2 separate regions of the Homo sapiens genome follow, and region 2 is linked to region 1. A link means that fine-mapping ties the variant in region 1 to the expression of a gene that starts in the linked region. Tissue or cell type: whole blood. Region 1 holds a variant in brackets; the other region holds the start of a gene. All regions are shown on one strand. Distances are between the middles of the regions.

Region 1 (2,763 bases):
ATATATAAATATATATATATATATAAATATATATATATATATATATATATATATATATATATATATATATATATATATATATATATCTCCACCCTCCTGGAATCTATGGCCTACTGGGGAGGACAAATAACTGAATTACAAAGTGTGATACATGCTCCAGAAGAAATCAATATGGTCTTGCAACAGAAACCAAGGGAGTAAAGGCTCTCAACTTTAGATGTCAGGAAAAGCTTCTCTGAAGAAAGAAAAACTACCCATGCAGATGCAGAGAGGGTATAGAAGTATACTGATGAGCATCCTAAGCAAAGACTCTGTGATGCAGAGAGGGTATAGAAGTATGCTGATAAATATCCAGGCCAGGTGCAGTGGCTCACGCCTGTAATCCTAGTAACTCCCAGTGGGTGGCTCCCACTTTGGGAGGCCCAGGCAGCTGGATCATGAGGTCAAGAAATCAAGACCATCCTGGCCAACATGGTGAATCCCCATCTCTACTAAAAACACAATAATTAGCTGGGTGCGGTGGTGCGTGCCTGTAGTCCCATCTACTCGGGAGGCTGAGGCAGGAGAATCACTCGAACCTGGGAGGCGGAGGTTGCAGTGAGTTGAGATCGCGCCACTGCACTCCAGCCTGGCAACAGAGCTAGACGCTGTCTCAAAAAAAAAAAAAAAAAAAAAAAAAAAAGTATATTGATGAATATCCAAGGCAAAGACTCAGCCTTGCTGTGGGATAGGGCTTGTAGCATGTTTGAGGAACTGAAAGGGAGCCAATACAATTAAAGCATAGCAAATCAAATGAGATGACATAGTCATGTTAGACAGGAGCTAGATCATGCAGGACCCTGAAGGCCCAAGGAAAGGATTTGTAATTTTATTCTATGGAAATTTATTCTTCAATGGAAAACACTCAAGGTATTTTTGGAAAAGGTACTACAGGGAATGTGAATCAAAGTAGAAGGATTAGTTCCAAGATTAATACAATAGTCCAGGAGAGAGAGGGTACTTGAACTAGGTTGGTAGCATGATGAAGAGAAGTAGATGGATTCTAGATATACTTTGAAAGTGACTGAATATAAAGAATGAGGAAAAGAGAGGAATCAAGGATGGCTCCAAGAGACGTCTGACTTAAGCAACTGCTTGGCTGATGGTGCCATGGTAAGTAACATAGTAATTAGTTTTAGCAGTTCTTAGCAACTAGAAGGATAAAAGAGAGAGAGGACTGCCAATTCTACAGCACAAAACAGCAAAAATAAATAAATAAACAAATAAATAAATAAATAAATAAAATAAAACCAGGGTACGAAAAGAAAAGGCAATTAGGCTACCTATGAGAGAACAGCAATATCAGACCAAATTTCCCATGGAAAACAACTATAAAAGTGATATAAAATGCCCCTAAATCCCCAGCTATTTGAAGGTTTC[C/T]GGAGAACAACCAAGGGTCAGGACTTGAGGAGCCAAGATCCCTTAGAGAAGGGAAACACTTTGAAGATCTCCCTTCAATTCCCCCTTGAGGTATTTGCCAATTACCAGTACAGAGCAAAAGGCCAAGCAGAAAGCAGCATCCCAGAACTTGTATGAATCTCACTGGGCTGGGAAGACACAAAAAGTGGATGTTGTACCACCAAAGGGCCAGGAATTGAGGATCTCAGGAAAATAAAAAGGAACCTCAAAGAAAGGGGCCCAATATTCTGTTCAACTTTTCCTCTCCAGGAATGTGCTGAATTGTAAACAGCATGGACTGAAATTCAGAAAATCCCAACAAAAAGATGTTGAAAAGAGGTTTTAAAAATAGCTTTCATCAGCCTCATGATACCTGAAATTCAGGACTTGCCAAGGAAGAGGTATCTTGGTAAACATGGCAAACTTTCAACTGAGACCTTAGCTAAGGGCTATACACCAGTAGTCCACCAATAGTGAGGCTATCAGAATTTCCTGACTGCCCTGAATTCAGGCTCATGTCTTATCAGTCACTTACGAATCAAAGTAATCAATGTTTTTCTAACTACTCACCAGAGGATATTAAATCCTATACGGAGAAACATAACCATAATTCAGATTCTCTATAATTTTTCATCACAATGTTAATAAAACATTGCCAGGCACCCAAGGAAAAAGGATCAAATAATCAAAAACAAAACAACAGAAACAGGCTCACAGACAATCTAGGTATGACGGTCATCAGACAGGAATTTTGCAACAGTAGTTAATATACTCAAGAAAACAGATGAAAACATAAGAATTTGAATCTATGTAAATTTTAGGATAAAAAATACAAAAACTAAAATTAAAAACTCAATAATTAGAAATAACTGGATACTGGACAGTGAAAATACAAGTGAACATGAAGATAGGTTGCTAGAAAATCTCTAGGCTTACGAGAAGGGGAAAAAAGAATGGAAACAGTGACATGACCTAACATACACGTAATTGTAGTCCCATAAGGAAAGAAGACAATTGAATAGAAATAATACTTAAAGAATATTAGCTAATTCCCGGGCCAGGTGCCTATAATCCCAACACTTTGTAATCATGCCTGTAATCATGCCTGTAATCCCAACACTTTGTAATCATGCTTGTAATCCCAACATTTTGGGAGGCTGAGGCAGGCGGATCACTTGAGGCCAGGAGTTTGAGAACAGCCTGGCCAATACGGCAAAACCACGTCTCTATGAAAAATACAAAAATTAGCCGGGCGTGGTGATATGCGCCTGTAATCCCAGCTACTAGGGAGGCTGAGGCACTAGAATCACTTGAACCCAGGAGGCG
Region 2 (2,500 bases), 240 kb before region 1:
TCGGCCAGAGGCCGACATACACAATTCTACTAGTCGAATGTAAGTAAGATAAAAGGCACATTCTTTAGGGAGATACACCTGGGATTGAAATCTCAACCATCTGGTAACTATGTCTGGACTAAAACCCAACACATGAGGGCATGGCGGTGATGACGTGAGTATTGGGAAATGTAGGTTATTTATTTATTTTTTTCCTGAAGGCACATGTCTGACTATCCTAGTCACACAAGTCAAACACAACTGCTGTCTGGTTCCCCCATCCCCTGGAAAGGGTCAGGAGCTGAACCAGCAGGCTGTTGTAGTACTACAGTGCAGCTGCCGCTCTGTGTACGCGCAGGTTTTAGAATGACTCTGACCTGCCCATGCCTGGGAAGTTTTCTACTACGCAGAAAGGAACACCCTGAGAATACGGTGTCTTGCTAAAGGCGGAAGAACTTCCTCTCATTCCAAACCATGTGGAGGGCTTGAGGAACCCGGCCTTTCCAGGCCACACTGGGTCACAAGGAAGCCCACCTAGGGGAGACTTCCTCAAAGCAATCTTGGGGACCCAGACGAGAGGTGCAGGCGGCGCGTCCCGGGTTCTAGGGACAAGCGGAGAGCCAGGCGCCCTAGGTCAGGGCGGCCACCGGGCGGGGATGGCAGCAGAGTCCCTGGGCCGGCCACCTGCCGCGGGACCACCCTCCGGGCGGCCGGGCAGAGTCCCCACCCACGGCTGATGACACATCCCCGGACCTCGTGGCGGGGCGGGGTGCTCTGCACCGCGCCATGTAAGGGAAGGTCTCCTCGCCGCCGGCGGGCTCCGTGTGCCTCCCAGTCTGGCCCCCGTGCCCGCCGCCCGCCTACGCACCCCGACCACCCCGTGCGTAGCGGCGCGCGGGTCCCCGGACAGGCGCGCGGAGCGGGCATCGCCAGATCGCCCACGCTTACTCACTCGGTGTTGCATCATGCACCACGCCGCGGTTTCAGGGAGCCAAAATGGACTCCGTGGAGGCGACAGTCGCATGGGCACCAGCCCCGCTCGCCCACTCCGGGGCCCGCCCGGCCCTGGTCCTGGCCCTTCCCAGAGGATGGCAGCGTTCCCGGCGCGGGGGCCCTCGCCACTCCCGCGCCGCCCTGCCGCGGCCCCACGCGGCGCCAGGGCCCCCTCCGTGATGACCCGGGCCCAAGGAGCTGCCCCCTGCGTTGGCGGGGCCGGGCACTCACCAAGCCGGCGGCGGCGGGGCTCCGGCAGGATCGCGAACAGACAGACTGTCGGACGCGCTCAAGGACCAACGGACGCTCGGCCGGCGAGACCGGGCGGGGCGGGGCGGGGCGGGGGCGCGGCGCGCGGGGAGAGGAGTGGAGGCTGCGGTTAGCGGGAGCCCGCGGCCGCGTGCGCGCCTGCCAGGTAGTTGACCCGCTGCTCACACCTGCCTGCGCGGACTGAATGGGCGCCGAGGGCTGGCGGGTTCCGGCGCCAGGTTTCATCAGCAGTGCGCCCGGCCCCCGCCCCTCGCGCTCCGCGCCCCGCGCCCCACGCCCGCCCCCGGACCAGGCAGCCCCGGCCCGCTCGGCCGCGTCACCGCCGGGCACCAATGGGAGCGCGGCGCGGCGGCGGCTGCCAGCCCAGAGGCTGCGGCCGGGGACCGACGCGCCCTTGGTGGGCGGGGCGGCTGAGTCTTCGCGCGCCCAGCGCCCCAACCTGGGGTTCCCGCGGCGGGCGGGCGGGCTGCGCCTCCGCTCGCCTTCTCAGTAGCTCCGTAGGCGTGTGGCCGTTTCTCCGCCAATCTGAGCGCACCGCGCCACAGCATCCTGTGGTCCCCTGCAGATCCCACAGCGCCCTGGCCAGAACTAGTGCTGCAGGTCCGGCCGTGCCAACCCCCTCCCGGCGGGCCCCAGGGAGCTCACACGGAACTCGAGACCAGTTTTCCTTCTCCAAAATAAAAGATTTGGTATGCACTTAAAAGGTTTAAACTGTTTTCTTTTCATTTTAGAGACAGGGTGTTACTCTATTGCCCAGGCTGGAGCGCAGTTCACCTTAACCTCGAAATCCTGGCCTCAAGCGATCCTCCCGCCTGGGCCTCCCAAAGCGCCCTAGGATTACAGTCCTGAAACACTGCACCGGCCTAAAAATTATTATAAATCTTCATGTCTTTGTTATTGGATTATTTTATTACTATTCCTTTGCCCTTGCTAATACCTTATCCTTGCCAGTTGTCAGAAGAGCCCCAAAGCTTGAATCTACCTGTGCCCCCTTGGCAGTGGCAAATGCACAAACGGCTAGTCAGAACGGCTCACTTTTGCAGTTACCCCCCAGGAAGTGGCAGAAGCTTCAGTCCTGAATCACACCGTGCTCACCTTTTAAGCTCCCTCCTTGTCTCCTTTTGTACCAAAAGCCAAGCGAGAATCATAATCTTTAAAGATCCAGTGATCTGGGACTTGGGATAGGTAAACAGGGCATAAATTAATAATGCCATCCTTCTTCTATCTTATAGGAAAACAGAAAAACAGTGGACGGTGT

What was found. PIP is the estimated chance that this variant, and not a neighbour inherited with it, causes the effect.
Region 2: it holds the start of SLC7A1, and the variant in region 1 is fine-mapped to the expression of SLC7A1 in whole blood (TOPMed, PIP above 0.99).

What each region holds. Positions count from the first base shown.
Region 1 is chr13:29,835,100-29,837,862 of GRCh38, forward strand. The region is part of intron 1 of UBL3 (ubiquitin like 3); the gene reads right to left. Among named protein-coding and RNA genes, the nearest start is that of UBL3, 14 kb to the right of the region's middle. The variant C/T (reference allele first, on the strand shown) is at 1,420.
Region 2 is chr13:29,594,213-29,596,712 of GRCh38, forward strand. It overlaps SLC7A1 (solute carrier family 7 member 1), which reads right to left and starts at 1,476. Exons shown (of 13, transcript NM_003045.5): 1 at 1,204-1,476. RefSeq lists silencers at 140-434, 603-1,842 and an enhancer at 363-492.